3 linked regions of the Homo sapiens genome follow. The protein of the gene in region 1 purifies or fractionates together with the protein of each later gene. This does not show direct contact. Each region holds a gene or a part of one and is shown on either strand. Other genes may lie near its edges.

Evidence for each region.
Region 2: the proteins of MTPAP (region 1) and ALDH3B1 purify together in Homo sapiens (co-immunoprecipitation; one large-scale study listed by IntAct). This does not show direct contact.
Region 3: the proteins of MTPAP (region 1) and GTF2IRD1 purify together in Homo sapiens (affinity purification with mass spectrometry; one large-scale study listed by BioGRID and IntAct). This does not show direct contact.

Annotation. Positions count from the first base shown.
Region 1 is NC_000010.11:30,321,779-30,325,278, forward strand, and holds part of MTPAP (poly(A) RNA polymerase, mitochondrial precursor), read right to left. Parts: intron 840-3,500; coding exon 613-839; intron 1-612. UniProt on the Homo sapiens protein: Polymerase that creates the 3' poly(A) tail of mitochondrial transcripts. Can use all four nucleotides, but has higher activity with ATP and UTP (in vitro). Plays a role in replication-dependent histone mRNA degradation.
Region 2 is NC_000011.10:68,023,827-68,027,326, reverse strand, and holds part of ALDH3B1 (aldehyde dehydrogenase family 3 member B1), read right to left. Parts: intron 2,526-3,500; exon of another isoform or gene 2,266-2,525; intron 2,141-2,265; exon of another isoform or gene 1,995-2,140; intron 1,319-1,994; coding exon 1,219-1,318; intron 1-1,218. UniProt on the Homo sapiens protein: Oxidizes medium and long chain saturated and unsaturated fatty aldehydes generated in the plasma membrane into non-toxic fatty acids. May have a protective role against the cytotoxicity induced by lipid peroxidation.
Region 3 is NC_000007.14:74,554,906-74,558,405, reverse strand, and holds part of GTF2IRD1 (general transcription factor II-I repeat domain-containing protein 1), read right to left. Parts: intron 3,233-3,500; coding exon 3,183-3,232; intron 3,014-3,182; coding exon of another isoform or gene 2,969-3,013; coding exon 2,912-2,968; intron 768-2,911; coding exon 684-767; intron 1-683. UniProt on the Homo sapiens protein: May be a transcription regulator involved in cell-cycle progression and skeletal muscle differentiation. May repress GTF2I transcriptional functions, by preventing its nuclear residency, or by inhibiting its transcriptional activation.

The DNA.
Region 1 (3,500 bases):
ATTATCTTCCCTTTAGCATTTACAGTTTCAAGATTTTATAACATAACTTCTCCAGCAGGCCTCAGCAAGGCTGAGGCACAAGAATCACTTGAATCTGGGAGGCATTTATAAAATCATTTATAATACAAACAATATAGTATGTCAAATTTAAAATAATGCACCTAAGACTGCTTATATGCTTTTCATTAAAAACACATTTAGAATCTTTGAAACATCACGAAGCAGTTTTAGTATCTCTAATACAAGTCTAAACATAAGTTCAGATTTGAAAGTCATCTCTGAGACTGTGATCCAATCAAAAGTTGTATCTGAACAAGTTGTATCTGAAAAAGGTCATTCTAGACTTGGTCAACTAGGGGAGAAGCTCCAGCTATCTCACAACTGCTGTAAACAACCTTGCCAACTGATACAAAGAAAACAGAACTCTCAAAAAATGCTAAAGGCCCTAGCTTCCCAAATCATCTGCTCTCGTGACTCCGGTAGACTTTAAAAAAAAGTCAAGACAAATTTTATGACTAATAAACAAATAGACGGGACTTTGGTAACACATGGTAATTATATTTACTCATAACATTGGAAAAAGAAAATGGAGAAGTTTCTTTCTAGTCTTACCTGCTAGGGTTTTTAAGGAATCTAGTGTTGGAAGAATAGGGGGTGATCTTCTCTGGAGAAAAAAGATGACCATCATTGTAAGGGAGAAATTTGTAATCCATGCACCAGGAATACTACTTGTTAGTGAATGTGCTCGAGCCCAGCACCGTACACTGAACACCAAGGCTCTCACTCTTGAGTCTAGGGCACCATATATATAAAGGAGTTCGGAACTTGTCAAGGCAATCCTTCAAAAAATAAAAATAAGAAAAATGTTCAAATCCCCAAATTATAAACCAAGGGTAAAATTAAACTCAAACCAAGAAACACATCTAAATATCCTACTATATCTGAATGTATTCAGAACATCATTAGGTAATCAAAAGCATTATGAATTTGCAATATAAAATTTAATATGAATGGCTGAATATCAAATACATTCATTCCCATTAAAACATCCTCTTAAAATTGATAATTAAAATGTAAGCCGGGCTCGGTGGCTCATGCCTGTAATCCTAGCACTCTGGGAGGCCGAGGTGGGCGGATCACTTGAGGCCAGGAGTTCAAGGACAACGAGGTGAAACCCCTTCTCTACTAAAAATACAATAATTCAGCTGGGCGTGGTGGCGTGCCCCCGTAATCCCAGCTACTCAGGAGGCTGAGGCATGAGAATTGCTTGAACCCGGGAGGCAGAGGTTGCAGTGAGCTGAGACCATACCAGTGTACTCCAGTCTGGGAGACAGAGCAAGACTCCGTTTCAAAAAAAAAAAAAAAAAAAAAAGAAAGAAAATGTAGATCTAGGACCAGGCGTAGTGGCTCATGCCTGTAATCCCAGCCCTTTGGAAGGCTGAGGCGGGCGGATCACCTGAGGTCAGGATTTGAGACCAGCCTGGCCAACATGGTGAAACCCTGTCTTAAACAAAAATACAAAAATTAGCTGGGCGTGGTGGCGCATGCCTGTAATTCTAGCTACTTGGGGGGCTGAGGCAGGAGAGTCACTTGAACCCGGGAGGCGGAGGCTGCAGTCAGCCGAGAAAGCGTTATTGCACTCCAGCCTGGGTGTCAGAGCAAGACCCTGCCTCAAAAAAAAAAAAAAAAAAAAAAGAAATAAAGAAAATGTAGATCTAGAACTCAGAATATGTATGTATTTATTTATTTGAGACGGAGTCTCGCTCTGTCGCCCAGGCTAGAGCGCAATGGCGCGATCTTGGCTCACTGCAAGCTCCGACTCCTGGGTTCACGCCATTCTCCTGCCTCAGCCTCCCAAGTAGCTGGGACTACAGGCGCCCACCACCACGCCCGGCTAATTTTTTTGTATTTTTAGTAGAAATGGGGTTTCACCGTGTTAGCCAGGATGGTCTCAATCTCCTGACCTCGTGATCCACTCGCCTCGGCCTCCCAAAATGCTGGGATTACAGGCGTGAGCCACTGTGCCCAGCCTAGAACTTAGAATTTTTAAATCAAAGTTTCTAAACATGATTTAAATAATATGTAAAACACACAAAGGCGCTTTATAATTATTAATAAATGGCTGGGTACAGTAGCTCACACCTGTGATCTCAGAACTTTGGGAAGCTGAGGTGGGCAGATAGCTTGAGCCGAGGAGTTCAAGACCAGCCTGGGAAACATGACAAGACACTGTCTCTACAAAAAATACAAAAGTTAGCTGGGTGTGGTGTCGCACACCTGTAGGCCCAGCTACTTGGGTGGCTGACGTGGGAGGATCACCTGAGCCCAGGGAGGTAGAGGCTGCAGTGTGCCAAAATTAAGCCACTGGGCTTCAGTCTTGGCGACAGAGTAAGGCATCATCTCAAACACACACACATATATATATATAAAATCGATAAAGACAAAAAGGCATTTATTGGCTGGGCACTGTGGCTCACGCCTGTAGTCCCAGCATTTCAAAGCAGGAGGATGACTTGAGCCCAGGAGTTTGAGACCACCCTAGGTAACATAGTAAGACCCTGTCTTTATAAAAATAAAAAATGTATATATAAAAGAAAAACAAAATTTTAAAAATTTAATTAAAAAAATAGTCAGGCGTGGTGGCATGCACCTGTAATCCTAGCTACTCAGGAGGTTGAGAAAGGAGGATTGTTTGGGCCCAAGAGTTCGAGGCTACAGTGAGCTATGATCACACTACTGCACTTCAGCCTGGGCAACAGAGAGAGACACTGTCTCTAAAAAAGTAAAAATAGAATTAAATTAAATTAAAAATATTAAGCTCCTACTGATCAAAACGTGTCTTGTAATTTCTCCAAGAACCAACAGATGGCATAAAAAAATAATTTAACAGCATCAAGTTAAAACTGTCTCTAAAACTGTCTTTAAAAAGAATAGAAGAAACAAGGCCAGGCGTGGCGGCTCACACCTGTAATCCAGCACTTGGGAGGCCGAGGTGGGCAGATCACCTGAGGTCCGGAGTTCAAGACCAGCCTGGCCAACATGATGAAACCCTGTCTCTACAAAAATTAGCCAGCATGATCACATGTGCCTGTCCCAGCTCGGAAGGCTGAGGCAGGAGAATTGATTGAAGCCAGGAGGCGGAGGTTGCATTGCAGTGAGCCAAGATTGCGGCACTGCACTCTAGCCTACGCGACAGAGCAAGACTATGTCTCAAAAAAAAAAAAAGAAAAAGAAAAAGAAGAAACAGCAACTTAGAAATTCATTGTGATTAAGTGTTTTATGTATGAAAATGAAGCTAAATTAAGCTAAAAATAAATATCAAAAAGTATAAGGTATCTTGATATAAAGAAAAAAACATAATTACAAAGATAAATGTAATTTTGTCCTATTTTACATACTACAAAGAAAATATAATAATGATAGAAAGTACAGTATTATATTTTTATACTAAAATTTGTCAAGAAATCACAGACTTTACTCCATGAGTTTTACTTGAGAGA
Region 2 (3,500 bases), on another chromosome or scaffold:
CAGCGTCTAGGTTGGGAGGCAGACGAGGCCCCAGGCCAGGGCGTTCAGAGCACAGCCTGGGTGGAGTGGGGTTGGCTGGGGGGCTTCCTGCAGTGAGTGAGCTCCAAGGATATGCAGTTAATAAGACGAAGAGAGTGGGTGGGGGCAAGAGGGACCCAGGCTTGGGGAGCCTTAGAGGTGGGTGCCATGCGGTGTGTTAGGGACCTGGGCAGAGCTCAGGCTGTGGGAGCAGCAGGTGGGGAAGCCGGGGTGGGGCCACGGCCACCAAGAAGGGTCAGCTCGGGGGCCTGGGAGCTGGGGGAGGCTTTCTTGAGGGAGCAGCAGGGTCAGATGTGCCCACAGACAGCCCCGACTCTCCTCCAGGGCAGGGAGGCGGGTTGAGGAGGCTGGGGCTGGGGCTGGGGAGGCAGCTAGGTGGGGTCGGGGGCAGCCGCCCAAACTCGAGCCGAGCCAGGACAGCAGCACAGGCACTGTTGTGCCCCTGGCTGCCCTCCAGGAAGGGCATGGACCCACCTGAGGCAGCTTGCCTGGCCCTGCCATCGTTCACTGTGGTGCTGAGTGTGGACAGGTGGCGGGACTGCCTGTCACCTGCTCGGGGCCTACTGTTCTCTGAGGAGGAAGTGGGCTCAGAAAGGGGAGATGTCACCTGGGCCACAGGGCCTTCAGCGTGTTGCTAGGACCATCTCTGAGGCTTCCTGACTCAGAGGCCAGGACTCTGCAGTGGCATCGGGGCTGCTCTGGGGGGTGGAGGATTGGCACTCATCCGGGCCTCTCAGGGTGGGGAGGTGTTGTACTGAGAGCTGGAGGGGGGATGGGGTTAGAGGAGCAGCTGCCCTGGAGTAAAGGACACCGGCGGCATTGCTGCTGAGGGGCAGACACCAGGTCATGCTGTTGGGGAGAAGAGCAAATAGCATCGCAGTGGGCAGTGTGATCATAGTTGTGTGGTATTTTTAAAAATTCACTAAATTGTGTGTCTGTGCAGAGATGGTCTAGAAGGTTCCACCACAGACTTTTTTTTGAGATGGGGTCTTACTGTGTTGCCCAGATTGGACTCAGACCCTCTGGGGTGGGGAGCAGGATGCGGGTTCTGGGGTGAGGCCTCCTTGCCTGTCCCTCTACATTGAGGTGGGGCTGGGGTGCTTTGGCAGAAATGTATGCAGGTAACACTATTGCAATTTGACCAAATGGTAACAGAAGGGCAGGGTAGCAGGCACCTACCCACTCCTCCAAAAGGCAGGCTGGCCAGGGTCATGTGCATGAAGCCGTCGTTCCCACAGAAGCCCCCGCTGCTGGTCTGGGTCAGCACCCGCTTGACCACCTGGGAGAGAACAGGATGTGCGTGAGGCTGCCTTGAGCCCCATCAGGATCCTCAGGACCCAGAGCCTGTTCCATGCTGGACTCTGTGACACTGATCTTGCCTCAGAAAGGGTCTGAGGCCACCATGTCAGCTGAAGGGCCTGTGATGGTACAGGTGGGGCAGGGGGTTGTGTAGCAGCTCCTCATGAAGCTTCCAACTTGGGACATGTTTCCTGGACATCTGCTCATGTGTGGTCCATGCTGATGGCACAGACTCTTAGGGCTGGGGGTAGGGGCAGGAAACCTAGTGTTGCTTGGGGACATGGAGGGTGTAGTGGCAGCAGGGCAGTACTGGACAGTAGGGAGGCATCCCAGGAGAGGGGTGTCATGTGCCTGCTGAGTGGAGGGACTGGGAGGGACAGAAGTTGTTCAGGCAAAGAGGGCACTGCAGACAGAGTGGAGGCTGAAGAGCTGTGTGGTGTGAACACAGGGACATGAAAACATAATGATGTGGTCAGATTTGCACTTTAGAAACAGAAGCTTGGCCCTTGCTTGAAGGTCCTTGAGAAGGACCTTCTTCCTCAATCTGTAGACTTATTTGAAGACTGAAAGGAAAAAAAGATTGGTAGACACTAAATAGTTGCTGCACAAAAACTTCAGTATATTTAGTTGCAATCACCGTGAACCTCTGATCACAGCTGGGTCAGGGCTTGTCTGATGTGGGGAAAGCGGACTGCCCCCAGTGGATTCAGACGTCACTTCATGGCATGAGACCAGCATTACCCACAATGGCAGTGGCAGCAGATGGAGGAGATGGAGCAGAAGGCAGCAGAGGGCGTCCCAGGTAGTACGGGCAAGCCACCTTGTGCATGACTTGTGTCTTAGGTGTGACTGTGTGTCCTGGGATCAGTTCTGGGTGGTCAGAAAAGTTTGAAGCCAGATGACTCCACTGTCAAAAAACCTCTGTAGAGTTTTCTAAAGGTGAAAGTATCCAGATGAAGCAGGGCTCCTTGAAGGAATGGCTGCTTCTGGAGTTGGAGCAGGGGAGATACAAGATGAGCCTGGAGCTGCTTGTAGCACCAGAGGGGAAGGAGGTGGTCACAACCCAAGAGGCTGGGACATCTTACATGGGCTTCTGAGCCCGAGCCTCAGACAAACCACACGACCTTGGATTACAGCCCCTGGAGTCAAATAAATATACCTGAGTCCGTAGTGACCTAAATAAACAATTCAAGAGATGAATCTTTCTTACAGAATTCCAGGAAATAGATGTAGATACTGCTGTTAGCCAAGAATACGGTATCCAGCTAAGACTATGCTTCGTAGATGAAGAAATAAAGCCTTTCCCAGACAAGCAAAGGCTGGGGGAATTTATCACTACTAGATCAGTCCTGCAAGAAATGCTCAAAGGAGTCTTAACATAAAAACAAGTTGGTATTTGCCATAATACACACAAAAGTACAAAACTCACAGGCCCTATAAAACAATCATACAAAGGAGGAAGAGAAAGGTATCAAATGGCAATACAACAAAATTCCACCAAACCACAAATGGAATAAGAAAAGAATGTATAAAATAACTAGATAATAACTAACAATATGATAGAGCAGCATACAGCTTAATTACCTCCACCTGGTGAGGGTGGGGTAGGCTTAGAGACTTGCTTCCAAATAATAAAGAAACAAACAATAGTAGCTTCCCAGGGAAACCCTGGCAGATACCGTCCTGACCCGGTAGTGAAGGTTCCACTCACTAGCCACGTGTGCATCTCAGGTGCCCCAGATGTGGTGTGAGAGGCAGGCTCACCTCTGTGGGATTCTCTCCTAAAACCAGTAACCTTTCTTTAATCATGAGAAATACACCAGATGACCTGAGGCTGGGGATGTTCTACAGGAGACCTGTCCAGCACTCCTTAAGCTGAGAGGGTTATTAATGCAAGGTGGGACCCTGGCTTGGATCCTGGGGCCGAAAGAGGATGTCAGTGGAAAAACAGCAAAATCCAAATAAAGTCTAGAGTGTAGTTAATAGTAAAGCACTGCTGTCACTTTTTTTTTTTTTTTATGGGTCAGGAGATCCTTCCACCTCAGCCTCCCGAGCAGCTGGCATTACAGGTGTGCGCCACTATGCGCAACTAATCTTAAAAAAATGTTTCATAGAGACGGGGTTTTGCTATATTGCCAGCGCTGGTCTCAAACTCATGAGCT
Region 3 (3,500 bases), on another chromosome or scaffold:
CATGGGTGACAGAGTGAGACCCTGTCTCAAAAAAAAAAAAAAAAAAAAAAAAAAAAAAGAAACGAAAGAAAAAGCCACACCAATATGCTCCCATGTCATATGCTCCATTTTTTTTTTTTTTTTTTTGAGACGGAGTTTCGCTTTTGTTGCCTAGGCTGGAATGCAATGGCGCGATCTCAGCTCACTGCAACCTCCCCCTCGCAGGCTCAAGCGATTCTCCTGCTTCAGCTTCCTGAGTAGCTGGGACCACAGGTGTGCACCACTGCACCTGGCTAATTTCTTTTTTGTGTTTTTGGTAGAGATGGGGTTTTGCCATGTTGCCCAGGCTGGCCTCGAACTCCTGAGCTCAAGTGATCCACCTGCCTCAGCCTCCAAAAGTGCTGGGATTACAGGCAGGAGCCACTGTGCCGGGCCCTTGTCTATTAAATTCTGTGTGTAGTTCTTGAAAGTGTATCTCACCTCATTGGTCTGCAAGGCTCATGAGTACAGGGACTGTGTCTGTTTTATTCACAGCAATATCCCCAGTGCCTGAGACAGTGCCTGGCACGTAGTATATGCTCAAGAAATACATGTAAAGGGGTGAATTGTTTCCCCAGAAATGCCCTCGGCTGGAACTGGGAAGCCTCCCACTTCTCTGTGCACAGCAGCTGCGTGTCCCTCCCCGGGGGTTCTGCACTGCTTACCGTATTTCTTATTGAAAAGGTCCTGGACCTGCTCCCTTAGTGTGTTGGCGATGTCGATCCGTGAGAGCCTCGCGTCATAATTTTCTGCAAAGCGCAAAACGATTATGGGTTTGGGCTGTTGAGTGAAAAAGCACTTGGTGACTTTTAAGGAAGATGATTTTCTAATTATGGGGAACTCCTTCTCCGGCAATTAAAGGATCTTTGGAGTGGGCCCCTCAGGTCCTTCAGCACCGACATGTTGATGGAGATGTCTTTTTTTCAGAAGGACATGCACTGTTGCCACAACAGTGATGAGTTGGAAATTAAGTTAATTGATGACATTTGAAAACCACCAAACCAATAAATAAGCCCCGGAGGGGAGGGACACCATAGAGTACGGAGTCCTGTGCCCTGGGCTGGCAGGCAGGGGGCGGGGGCTTCATGAAGTCACTAGGGGGCTGGAGACAAGCGAGGGAATGGAAGCCCAGCTGATCTAGCAGATGGAGGAGGATGGGCAGTCCCCACAGACACAGGGGATGGGCCTGGCGGCTCCCAATGGAACCTCCACCTCCCAGGCTCAGGCGATTCTCCTGCTTCAGCCTTCTGAGTAGCTGGGACCACAGGCGTGCACCACCGCACCTGGCTAATTTCTTTTTTGTGTTTTTGGTAGAGATGGGGTTTCGCCATGTTGCCCAGGCTGGCCTCGAACCCCCAAGCTCAAGTGATCTGCCTGCCTCAGCCTCCAAAAGTGCTGGGATTACAGGCATGAGCCACCAAGACACCCTCACCCAGAAAGTGTTCATTAAAAACGCCCAAGTGTGACCGGGCGCGGCGGCTCATGCCTGTAACCCCAGCATTTTGGGAAGCTGAGGCAGGAGGATCACCTGAGGGCAGGAGTTGGAAACCAGCCTGGCCAATGTGGTGAAACCCTATCTCTACTAAAAATACAAAAATTAGCCAGGCATGGTGGTGCGTACCTGTAATCCCAGCTACTTGGGAGGCTGAGGCAAGAGAACCCCTTGAACCTGGGAGGTGGAGGTTGTAGTGAGCCAAGATCGCACCACTGCACTCCAGCCTGGGTGACAGAGCAAGACTCTGTCTCAAAAAAAAAAAAAAAAAAAAAGCTGGGTGCAGTGGTTCATGCCTGTAATCCCAACACTTTGGGAGGCTGAGGTGGGCAGATCATCTGAGGTCAGGAGCTCGAGACCAGCCTGTCCAACATGGTGAAACCCCGTCTCTACTAAAAAATACAAAAATTAGCCGGGTGTGGTGGCACGTGCCTATAATCCCAGCTACTTGGGAGCCTGAGGCAGGAGAATTGCTTGAACCCGGGAAGCGGAGGTTGCAGTGGGCTGAGATCACGCCATTGCACTCCAGCCTGGGCAACAAGAGTAAAACTCCATCCAAACAAACAAACAAAGACAAGTGCCAGCATGTGCTGGAGGGATCCCAGACCACCATCTCTCTCTCTCTCTCTCTTTCTTTTTTTTTTGAGACAGGGTCTTGCTCTGTCACCCAGGCTGGAGTGCAGTGGCATGATCTCGGCTCACTGCAATCTCCGCCTCCCAGGTTCAAGCGATTCTCCCGCCTTAGCCTCCCTAGTAGCTGGGATCACAGGTGCACGCCACCTCGCCCAACTAATTCTTGTATTTTTTTGGTAGACACGGGGTTTCACCATGTTGGCCAGGCTGGTCTTGAACTCCTGGCCTCAAGTGATCCACCTGCCTCGGCCGCCCAAAGTGCTGGGATTACAGGCGTGAGCCACTGCACTCGGCCTCTGATTTCTTTTCTTAAAAATAGACATAGAGACGGGTTCTATGTTGTCCAGGCTTGTCTCGAGCTCCCAGCCTCAAGCGATCCTCCCACCTTGACCTTCCCAAGTGCTGAGATTACAGGCGTGAGGTGCCGCGTCTGGCTCCTATTCTGATTTCAAAGCACTAAGACCACAGCTGATTGCTGAAAAAGGAGTGGGCGTGTCAGCTACCTCTGGGGGGTGGGGCAGGGAGGGGGCAGGCAGGCTCCTGGGCTCCCCCGACCGTCCACCTGTAGGCACCCCCTCTCCCCTGGAGTCTCTAACACAGAGCTGGCAGGGTACAGCCGGGCCTGGGCTGCCAACCTGGCTTGCCTGGTCCCTTAGGCCCTGAAGTTGGGGGCCAGCTCCTCCCCACTTCCAGCCTGGCCCTCCAAACCCAAACCAGGTCAATGTCCTGGTGCTGGGACAACAGACCTCCCCGTGAGCTCAACCTTACCTTGAAAGCCCTGTCTCTTCAGGCTCTCGTCCACCAGAGGGTCCCCGGAATCCCTCTCTGGGGGCAGGGCAGGGGGAGAGAAGCCAAGTGAGGAGGCAGTTCCTGGGACCCAAGATGGCATCGTTAGGGGAAACCCAATGTGGGGGTGTGGGGAGAATGCCAGGGCCAGGATGGGAGCAGGACAGAGGCAGCAGGAGGAGGGGCTGGTGGCAGAGGCCTGGGGCCCTCCCTTGCCCGCCCACACCATGGCTCCCGACCCCGCGCTGGGTACCTTGACTATCCATGATGGGCTCTTTGACTCCCTCAGTGAGCAGCTCGGGCCTGGAAAACACAAGCGAGGCTATCACAGAGGTCCCTCCAAGCATCTCTGGGACTGCTCAGCCCTCCTCTCTGGGCCTCAGTCTACACAGCCCTGCAATGGACCCTTCTGGCTATGCATAGTTCAGGCCTGGAGTCCCTGCCGCCCCACATGTGGAATCTGGGGGGCTGCGCTGGGCTTGAAGGATCCAGCTGGGAGTGAGACCCCCCCCAGTCCTGAACAGGTCCATCTGATATCTCACTCCTGCTCCAGGGACATTGCACGATTGTC